3 linked regions of the Homo sapiens genome follow. The protein of the gene in region 3 interacts with the protein of the main gene of each other region in a biochemical or structural test. Each region holds a gene or a part of one and is shown on either strand. Other genes may lie near its edges.

Region 1 (3,651 bases), on a different chromosome or scaffold from region 3:
TAGTTTATTTGTCTGAAAGCCACCAGCACCCAAAATTAGTTAATAAATGTCAACTGGAACATGCAGTGTTAATGCATAGAGTCTCCCATCTGCAAAGGTCTTAGAAACCAGCAAGCCTAATCTCCAATTTTATTATTTGTTGATTTATTTTTGAGATAAAGTGTCACTCTCTTGCCCAGACTGCAGTGCAATGACCCAATCCTAACTCACTGGAACCTCAAACTCCTGGGCTCAAGTGATCCTCTAACTTCAGCCTCCTGGGTAGCTGGCACCACTGAGCCCAGGTGATTTTTTATTTGTTCTAGAGATGGGGGTATTGCTATGTTGCCCGGACTGGTCTCAAATTCTTGGCTTCAAGTGATCCTTCCTTCTTGGCCTCCCAAAGTGCTGGGATTACAGGCATGAGCTGCCATACCTGGCTAAACCTCTGATTTTAGATGAGCAAACTGAGGCCCACAGAGGTATGCTTAAAGTCACACAACCTATTTGGAGTAGAGCAAAGCTGGAGTTGCTGGCCGGGCGTGGTGGCTCACATCTGTAATCGCGGCACTTTGGGAGACTGAGGCAGTAAGACCATTCAAACTCAGAAGTTCCAGACTAGCCTGGGCAACATAGTGAGACCTCATCTCTAGAAAAAAAATCAAAAAATTAGCCAGGTGTGATGGGGCATGCCTGTAGTTCCAGCTACTTGGGAGGCTGAGGCAAAAAGATCACTTGAGCCCAGGAGCTCAAGGCTGCAATGAGCTACGATTGTGCCACTGCACTCCAGCCTGGATAACAGAGCGAGAGCCTGTCTCAAAAAAAAAAAAAAAAAGGCCAGGCGCGGTGGCTCACACCTGTAATCCCAGCACTTTGGGAGGCCAAGGCGGGTGGGTCACAAGATTAAGGGATCGAGACCATCCTGGCCAACATGGTGCAACCCTGCCTCTACTAAAAATCCAAAAATTAATCGGGCTTGGTGGCAGGTGCCTGTAATCTCAGCTACTCAGGAGGCTGAGGCAGGAGAATCGCTTAAACCCAGGAGGTAGAGGTTGCAGTGAGCCGGAATTGCGCCATTGCACTCCAGCCTGGCAACAGAGTGAGATTCCGTCCGTCTCAAAAAAAAAAAAAAAAAAAAAAAAAAGTCCGGGCACGATGGCTCATTCCTGTAATCCCAGCACTTTGGGAGGCTGAGGCGGGTGGATCACGAGGTCAGGTGTTCAAGACCAGCCTGACCAACATGGTGAAACCCCGTGTCTACTAAAAATACAAAAATTAGCCAGGCATGGTGGCACACGCCTGTAATCCCAGCTACTCAGGAGGCTGAGGCAGGAGAATCACTTGAACCCGGGAGGCAGAGGTTGCAGTGAGCCGAGATCAAGCCACTGCACTCCAGCCTGGATGACAGAGCGAGACTCCATCTCAAAAGAGCAGGCTGGGCACGGTGGCTCATGCTTGTAATCCCAGCACTTTGGGAGGCCAAGGTGGGTGGATCACCTGGGGTCAGAAGTTCAAGACAACCAGCCTGGCCAACAATGGTGAAACCCTGTCTCTACTAAAAATACAAAAAAAAAAAAAAAAAAAAAGTTAGCTGGGCATGGTGGCTGGAGAATTGCTTGAACTCAAGAGGTGGAGGTTGCAGTGAGCCTAGATCCTGCCACTGCCACCGCACTGTTCACTCCAACTTGGGTGACAGAGACTCTGTCTAAAAAGAAAAAACAAAAGAGAGACAGAGAGAGAGAATTCATGCTGGGTCTAAGTGGAAGCAGGGAGCAGTGGAAGTTTCTCATTAGCAAAACTCAGAAGACTGTCCCCATAGTTAGAGACCTAAGTTCAAATAGCAATTTTGACACTTACTGTGTGACTTTGCTGAAATCATTCCTCCTAAGCCTCACTTTTCCTCTTCTGTCAAATGGGGCTCTTCATCCATTTCTCATAAGCTCACATGAATGTTAGCTTAGTTTAGTGCTTAGAAACACTTTCACCAGTGCACAATTCTGTCCTACCAACTCCTGCTTTGGAAGGTGGAAGAATGGGACTGGGTAATTAATCTCCTTTGCTTTAGACTCCTGTTTCTTTCTTTTTTCTTTTTTTAATAGAGTCTCGGCTGGGCGCGGTGGCTCATGCCTGTAATCCCAGCACTTTGGGAGGCTGAGGAGGGCAAATCACATGGTCAGGAGTTCGAGACAAGCCTGGCCAACATGGTGAAACCCTGTCTCTACTAAAAATACAAAAATTAGCTGGGCGTGGTGGTGCGCGCCTGTAATCCCAGCTTCTTGGGAGGCTGAGGCAGGAGAATTGCTTGAACCATGGAGGTGGAGGTTGCAGTGAGCTGAGACCACGCCATTGCACTCTAGCCTAGGTGACAGAGCAAGATACCATCTCAAAAGAAAAAAAAACAGACAGAATCTCACTCTGTCACCTAGGCTGGAGTTCAGTGGTGTGAACTTGGCTCACTGGAACCTCCACCTCCCAGGTTCAAGTGATTCTCCTGCCTCAGCCCCCTGACTAGCTAGGACTACAGGCATGTGTCACCACGCCCAGCTAATTTTTGTAATTTTAGTAGAGATGGGGGTTTCACCATGTTGGCCAGGGTGGTCTTGAACTCCTGACCTCAAGTGATCCACCCACCTCAGCCTCCCAAAGTGCTGGGATTACAGGCGTGAACCACCATGCCCAGCCTAGACTCCTGTTTCTTTTCTCTCTTTCCTTTTTTTTTTTTTTTTAGACTTGCTCTGTTGCCCAGGCTGGAGTGCAGTGGTGTGATCTGGGCTCACTGCAAGCTCTGTCTCTCCTCCCTCAGCCTCCCTAAGCAGGTGGGACTACAGGCGTGCACCACCACGCCTGGCTAATTTTTGTATTTTGTGTTTTGTATTTTTAGTAGAGACAGAGTTTTGCCACGTTGGCCAGGCTGGTCTCGAACTCCTGACCTCAGCCTCCCAAAGTGCTGGGATTACAGGCAATGAGCCACTGTGCCCAGCCCTAGACTCCTGTTTCTTTTCTTTTCTTTTTTTTTTTTTTTTGAGACGGAGTTTTGCTCTTGTTGCCCAAGCTGGAGTGCAATGGCACGATCTCGGCCCACCGCAACCTCTGCCTCCCAGGTTCAAGCGATTCTCCTACCTCAGTCTCCCAAGTAGCTGGGATTACAGGCATGTGCCACCACGCCCGGCTAATTTTGTATATTTATTTATTTACTTATTTATTTATTTACTTTTATGGGTATCTGGTAAGTATATATGTTTATGGGGTACATGATATATTTTGATAGAGGCATACAATGTGTAATAATCACAAAAGGGATAAATGAGCTATCCATCACCTCAAGCAAGCCTCTTATTATTATTATTATTATAAAAACTAGCTGGGCATGGTGGTGCATGCCTATAATCCCAGGTGCTTGGGAGGCTGAGGCAGGAGGATCACTTGAGCCCAGGAGTTCAAGGCCACAGTGAGCTACGATTGCACCACTGCACTCCAGCCTGGGTGACAGAACAAGACCCCTTGTCTAAAGTAAATAAATAAATGAATAATAATAATAAATTTTTTTAAGTTTTGAAAAGAAGCCCAACATACTGCCAGGCATTTGCATTTCTCTTTCTGCATTTGCATTTCTCTCATTACTTTTTTCTTTTTTATTTTTTTTGAGACAGAGTCTCACTCTGTCTCCCAGGC
Region 2 (3,751 bases), on a different chromosome or scaffold from region 3:
GGCCACTTTCTTCTTCCTGGAGGTAACAATCTGTCAATTGCTTAAGTTAGGACCATCATCCCTCTCCACCTTTAGAAGCTATTAGTGGGAACTGCCCAACACTGGCCATACAATCTGAAAATGGCATTTTCAAATAATTTATGGATAACATCCTAAAAAAGGACTGCCGATTGTCACACTCCACTCTGTGGATCTTTTCGAAAGAAAAAAAAAGTAAACAATCAAAAATTAAGTTAGGTTTCATCCCTCAAATGATATGGAGTTACCATAAATAAAAAAACTAAATGTCACAGAGAGGATACTAACTCTGATACTCCAGTGTGTGTCGAGCAAAAGTGCTTTGAAGCCAGCCAAAATCAACCCACAGATAATAAAGGAAACTTTGGAAATGTTGCCGCTCATTTGGACTTTTCTTTTCCCCTCTGACAATAGTCCACATGCTATGAATAAAATACATTAGACCATTGCGAGACCTGCCTCGGTCCATCCAATCCATGCGCCTCCCAATGCATTGAGATCTGCCGGGTGACATATGAGATCTAAAGTGGGTGGATAAAAATAACCTGGTCCTCAAAAAGACATGATAAACGCCAGACAGCTGAGTCACTTTGAAGCCCATTTTGACTTTTGAAAGGGACATTCACCCTCCTGCTGCTTCTCACACATTCACATAGAACCAGGTGAAAACCACCACCAACCGCCCCGGGTGGAAGGCGGCGATCCCTCTCAGCTTCCTCCTCATTCTCCGAGGTCACGACTCGGGATTGAACTTTTAATAATTTATACTTGCGCATGTCAGTCCAAGTGACTCATTTAGAAGGGCAAGGTGGGGAAGGCTTAAGAAAACCATCGCAATCCAGTAGATCCCCTATTTCTGCTGCCCGAGTGGAGGCACCGGAAGGTTTCGTCTGACATTTTTTTTTTTTTTTTTTTGAGACGGAGTCTCGCTCTGTCGCCCAGGCTGGAGGGCAGTGGCGCGATCTCGGCCCACTACAGCCTCCTCCTTCCCGGTTCAAGCGATTCTCAAGCCTCAGCCTCCCGAGTAGCTGGGACTACAGGCTCCCGCCACCGCGCCCGGCTAATTTTGGGGTTCTTTTTTAGTAGAGATGGGGTTTCGCCATATTAGCCAGGCTGGTCTCGAACTCCTGACCTCAAACGATCCGCCCGCCTCCGCCTCTTAAAAAGTGCTAGGATTTCAGACGTGAGCCACCGCGCCTGGCCCTGACATTCTAAAGACAAGAAAAGGAGTGGGGTGAAATGGGAACTGGTGGAAGAAAAGCTCAGAGAGCAAATCAGAATTGTCCAGAAGTGGGGATCCCTGAGCAAAGCAAGTGGTCCCAGAAAAAGAAGGGCTGTGTGTGTCCCGGGGTGTGGGGGGATCATCCCGTCCACCTACCCGCCCTGCGCTCTGCCCCGCGGAGGACGCAAACGATCTGCAACGTGCAGTTCGGAACAGGGAACTCTTGTATTTCATCTATCTTTAAACGGCGGCGGGGCTGTGTGCAAGCTGCTGGGAATCGGGCCCTTCCAGCCTGGGGAGGCTGGCGGAGCAAAACCACCAGCACGAGCCAGTCCTCGGCTGCAGCAGCCCTGGGGCGCTCACTAAGTGTCTGCCGAACTGCAGTGTTCCTGAGCCAACTCTGCCGCCCGGAGGAAGAGAAGAGGTCCCGGCCGCCACTGCGCATCTTCTCCCCCGGCTTCACGTGCCGCAGGCCGCCGGCCCCGCGACCCTCCCCCGAGGCGCCTCACTTACGGGAGAGTCGTAGGAGAAGGCGCACTCGTTCTTGTAGACCCTGTCGCCGGACCTGGGCACGCGGATCGTGGGCATGTGGGGCACTAGCAGCTCGCCGATGTCTCCTGCAGCCATCTTCCTGCCTCCGCTGCCGCCCGGCATGCCGAACAGGGCGCCCCGGCGCTGCATGGCCTCGGCGCGCACCGGAGCCGAGCGAGCCGAGCCGGAGCCGGAGCGCGGGGTCTGCCGGCGGCGGCGGCGCCAGCGAGCGGGCTGACGGGCGGGCTGCGCGGGCAACGGCAGCCGGCCGAGCCGGGGCGGGCGGGGAGAGCGGGCTGCGGGGCGGGAGCGGGCACCGCGGGCTTGGGGCGGACTGGCGACGCTATTTTTAATCCAATGGCGAGTCTCCGGCCCAGCTGCAGCGTCAGGCGGGGCTGGGGAGCGCCAGCCGCAGCGTGCCGGGGAGGGGGCGCTGGAGAGGGGCCCTGCGCGTGGGCCGGGCGCGGCGGCGGGGGGCGGAGGGCGAACCCCTGAGGCGTTGGCGCGGGAGCTCGAGCGGGCTGGCGGCCGAACGCGGCGCGGGAGGGCCCCGGGAAAACACCACGGAGGTGTTTTCTATCCCGAATTGTTGGCTTGCAGAGGGGCAACTCCGAGGAGGCCAACACAAAGAGCAGGATTGGGGGTTTTAAAAACCGCTTGCTTTTAAAACAGCCGAAGACTAGGGCGGTGACGTCCCCGGATTGGATAGGGGCGGGACTCGATGTGCAAATCTGAAATCTAACGTGAGGCTTAAATCTAAATTTGCGCCATGCACTTCAGTGCTTCCCCACTAAGCTTCGTTCCTTACTTTAACATCCAAGGCTCAAAAATAGAGCGAATAGAATAAGATCGAGTGAGGATAGAGGGTGTGTGTGTGGGGGAGGGCGGGGTGTGTGTGGGAGTGTGTGTGTAATAATAATACAGGTTTTCTTACATATTGGGGGAAGTCAGGGATGGTCAAGATTTTTTCAGGGCGTCGGAAGGCTTTCTATTTTTCTCTGCCTTTGGAGTATCTTCTATGTGATTCAAAGTTCTCATGTCGAACATTCAGTGGCCTGATTTGAGGATTTTGTAGGCAGGCATACATATTCCTGTCTTGATCATCAGTTCCTCAAAATAAATGATGAATGGGGTTGGCCTCGGGGGTTGATCATTTGCAAGCAGAGCATGTCTCCCAGCATACTCTCATTCTCTCCAAAAAACCCACAAGACGGGTTCAATGACATTGAGGTTCTCTAACTACACCCAACATATGTATTCATGACAGAGTATCCAGTGATCCCTGCCAGTTAATGAAATGCAGAAATAGCGAGAAATAGTGAACCAAAACGCTAATTTTTGTAAGCCTCTCTCAGATCAGATAGTCCTTAAGTTCTTTTTTTTTTCTTACTTTTTTTCTCTTTTAACTCTCCCTGGTTCTCCAGACCTATCTCAAGATTTCCATACCCTCAAGCAAGCCTCGAGCGCACCACACTTTCTTATAACTCAGCACTCCCAAATGCTATCTGTTGGAAAAGGAGGAGGTGGCACTGAGCAAAAAATCAGACACTACTGTCATCTTCCTCATTGGGCAGATCCTCTCAGCGAGCTTTTGCTTTGAATTTAGTCTCATCAGCTTATTACCTTTCACGTTAATGGATGATGTTTTCTCCAATTACAGAGATAAACTTGGTTTTACAAAACTTAAAATTTAATCTTAGATTAAATACAAATTAAATCAGTGAGACACTGTTTTTCATCCTTTGGGCTGGTAAAGATATATTGAGTTAGCATGGGTTTGGGAAGTAGACCCTCATTACATTGTTGGTGGGGATAAAAACGATAAACCTCTTTGGAAGGAAATGTAATAATACCAGTCATAACTTTATATGTGCATACTGTTTTCCCCAGCATTTCCTTGTCTAGACATTTATGCAACAGATAAATTAAGGCTGTGTAAAGATATTTGTTAGAGCACTGTTTCGAGTAACAAACGTCTGG
Region 3 (3,651 bases):
AGCAGAGATGGCGCCACTGCACTCCAGCCCGGGCAACAAGAGCGAAACACTGTCTCAAAACAAAAAAATTAATAATTAAGTAACCAATCCCATAAAATATGAGCAAAAGACTTAAAGATATTTCGCCAAAGAAATTATATGAATGCCAAATGAAAAATGCTGATCACTAGCAATTACAGAAATGCAAATTAAAACCTGTGAGGTACCACTAAACACCTGTCACAATGACTAAAATTAAAAAGACTGACCATACACACTGTTAGCCAACATACTGGCAGAACTGGAACCCCCCAAACATCGCTGGTGGCAATGTAAAATGGTACAACCACTGTGGAAAACAGGGAGTTTCTTTAAAAGTTAGGCATACATCTACTACATGATCTAAACATTCCCCTATTAAGCATTTACCCAAGAGAAATAAAGGCGTATACCCATACAAAGACTTGTACACAAAGTTCAGAAGCTTTATTTGTAACAGTCAAAAAGCTGGAAACACACAGCTTCTGCCGTTTTTCAATGCCCACCAACAGGTAAACCAAAAAATTGTGATATGCCTACACAACAGACTAGCACTGAGCAATTAAAAAAAGAACATAATGTATTTACAAAAAAATTCTAAAAAACGCAAAGTAATCTACAGTGATAAAAAGATCAAGGATTTCCTGCAGGGAGAAGGGTGGAAGGAACAAGCAAGAAAGAGGGAAAAGGGACATGAGAAAACTTTTGGGGGTAATGGATAGGTTCACAATCTTGATTGTGGTGATGGTTTCATGGGTATACCTTCTTTTAAGAGTCTCCTGTGTCGCCCAGGCTGGAGTGCAGTAGCATGACCATAGGTCACTGCAGCCTCAAACATCTGGGCTCAAGTAATCCTCTCTGCTGCCTCAGTCTTTTGAGAAGCTGGGATTACAAAAGGTGTCTGAAATTATCAGGCAGTACATTTTAAAAACATGCAGTTTATTGTCAATTATACCTCAATAAAGCTATTTTTAAAAATTCCCCATCAATAAAACAGCCTGGAAAGATGTGAAAAAGATCCCTGGAAGGAAGGGAATGGAAGCCCGTATAGAAAAAAAGGAGTCTTAGAGGGCAATGCAAAATGTCAAATGTTAATTCTGAGTACGATAGTATTTAAGTGGTCTTTTTACTTTAAAAAAGTTGTCAAAAACACCAAGGAAAAACAGCAAGTGTTTGTGTGTACTAACTTGAGAATATATTAAATTTTTGTAAATTTTGTTTCAGGATTATGTCATGTATTCAAACATTTGATATCTGGTTCTCTAAATCGTGGGAATTTAGAAACAAAATCTTTTCCCAGAACTGGAGTAACATGAATACAGAAGCCAACATCTGTGCTCAGAGCAAGAAAAGTATCAACATCACTGGGCCTACTGTCAATCTATTTTTCCAAACTCTTCGCATTTACCACCTGTCACCTCCCTTCACAATTCTTCCTGACGCCTCCTTGGAGAAATGGTTGATTCTGGACCTGAGACAGGCAAAATGCAAGATGAGCCTGAAATACCTGGTAATTAATGAAAGAAAAAACATGCTTTTAAAAAACAGATAAGATAGGGAAGTGTCAAAAGGACAAAGGAGCCAAAAAAAAAAAAAAAAGCTGGAACAACATGAACAACAAAATAAACTGTGGCCAGCACAGTGGCTCACACCTGTAATCCCAGCACTTTGAGAGGCCAAGACAAGAGGATTGCTTGAGCCCAGGAGTGTGAGACAGCCTGGACGATATTTTATAAAAATATAAAATAAATAATAATCAAAAATAAGTAAACATCAGCAAGGATAATTGTGGATTACAACCCAAAGAATAAAATTAATATCCGTGGTCTATAGTGATATAAATGAAAAAAAGAAAAAACATGAAGAATACACAAATCTTCCTCACAGAAAATTTATACTGTAGAAGGAATGAGGAAAATAAAAAAAATCACCATTAGAACCCCGAAGTAATAATAGCTGCAGACGAGATCCATTAAAATGCTAAAATTAAGGAGGGGAACTTTATTTCCATGGCTTCGAAGCATCTCCCCCAAAATAATAACAGTAGCTTTAATATACTTCCACAAATTCACATTCTCCTCCCTCTAGAAAGTAGAGCCTAATTCCCCTCTCTCCTTGAGTGTGAGCTGGACTTGGTGACTAGCATCTAAGGAATAGTATCTAAAGGGGAAAAAAACACTAACCTGACAGATACCACCTGAACCAAATCATCAGGTTAAATTCAACCAGTTATATATTATGGACCCCCAATCTGATGTGATAAGGGTAATTTCTGTGGTATTCTTCCCCCAAAAATCTGTAACTTCAGTCTAATCCTTAACATCAAATCCAAATGAGATCAAGTGTCATGGTCACGAAAGACAAAAGGAAAGACAGAAACTGACACAGATCAGGAGACTACATACAATGTGGCATCTTGGACTGGATCCTAGAACAGAAAAAGGACATTAGTAGAAAAACTAAGGAAATCCAAATAAAGTCTTTCATTAACAGTATTTTATCGATGTTAATTTCTCAGTTCTGTTAAATGTACTTGGATTACATAAGATGTTAACAGTGGATAATGGGTATTCAAGACCTCTCTATTGCAACTCTTCCACAAATCTTACTTTATCTCAAAAATACTGTTTTCCTGAAAGAAAAAAAACTTCAGGAATCAGAATACTTAACAACTATCTTTTATCTTAGTGTATCCCTTCCCCACTCCAAAGTTAAAACCTACTCAGGTTCACAATTTAAAAAAATCTTTGTTCTTTCTCATCACGTGAAAAGATATGTTACAGTTAATACTAATGCTCATCCGCAAAATTCTTAAACAGATCAAGACAGGTGGATACACTCCAGGGAAATCTAGGCAACCTCAGTGCAGAAACAAGGGTGTACTTAAGGCACAGCCTATGGCTTTGCATAAACAGCATATGGGAGAAGCCTGCAAGGGCAGGCAGGTGTCACATTCATACATTCCAGATTCAAAATCCCTCTAAGATTTTTCAATTAAGGAAATAAGCTGGCTATAGTACCCTATTAGGTACCACATGCTTTTCAAAATAGTTTTGACAATTCGGTTTCAGAGCTCCAATTCACTTTTTAGTAAAAGTATGGTAATACCAAAGATGTGTGAAAGCACTCTCTAAATATGCAAAAGGTTACACAAATACATAATGATGCTTTATATAGCCAGTGAAGTTAATAGCCACCAAAGATTACATCCCTACTAAGTAGATGTGTATACCATCCAGGAAGCCAAATTTCTGTCAATCATCTTTAATCTTTACTTTTGATTAAGTACCTAAGATACAACACACATACCAAGAACTTATTACATGACAGACTGGCCACCTGACAGAAGAGGGACTCTATCACAAAGTCGCCTAAAGACCTTATTTACTAAGCTACAGGCTGTGAGGGCAATTTTTTTGAAATTGCTTTCCACCTTGTAAGACAGAATATTAAGACACTATTCGTGTGTGTGAATTATTCCTACTCTTAACCCTATCACCTGGCTTGCAACTTGACCTTCCCAACTAAAGACAGACAGGATGTCCAAGAATACTTTTTTAAAAAAAGTAAATAGCTGATTTCTGAGATATAAAATTATAAACCTAGTGTGCCACCACATTGTGATCACCAACT

What was found.
Region 1: of the proteins of G3BP1 (region 3) and LCK, one has a biochemical effect on the other in vitro, tested with the Homo sapiens proteins (one study listed by BioGRID).
Region 2: the proteins of G3BP1 (region 3) and USP13 interact in a test that uses a peptide from one of them, tested with the Homo sapiens proteins (one study listed by BioGRID).

Annotation. Positions count from the first base shown.
Region 1 is NC_000001.11:32,268,165-32,271,815, reverse strand, and holds part of LCK (tyrosine-protein kinase Lck), read right to left. Parts: intron 1-3,651. UniProt on the Homo sapiens protein: Non-receptor tyrosine-protein kinase that plays an essential role in the selection and maturation of developing T-cells in the thymus and in the function of mature T-cells. Plays a key role in T-cell antigen receptor (TCR)-linked signal transduction pathways.
Region 2 is NC_000003.12:179,651,396-179,655,146, reverse strand, and holds the start of USP13 (ubiquitin carboxyl-terminal hydrolase 13), read right to left. Parts: upstream 2,108-3,751; 5' UTR 1,922-2,107; coding exon 1,754-1,921; intron 1,490-1,753; exon of another isoform or gene 1,475-1,489; coding exon of another isoform or gene 1,397-1,474; intron 1-1,396. UniProt on the Homo sapiens protein: Deubiquitinase that mediates deubiquitination of target proteins such as BECN1, MITF, SKP2 and USP10 and is involved in various processes such as autophagy, endoplasmic reticulum-associated degradation (ERAD), cell cycle progression or DNA damage response.
Region 3 is NC_000005.10:151,774,864-151,778,514, reverse strand, and holds part of G3BP1 (ras GTPase-activating protein-binding protein 1), read right to left. Parts: intron 1-3,651. UniProt on the Homo sapiens protein: Protein involved in various processes, such as stress granule formation and innate immunity. Plays an essential role in stress granule formation.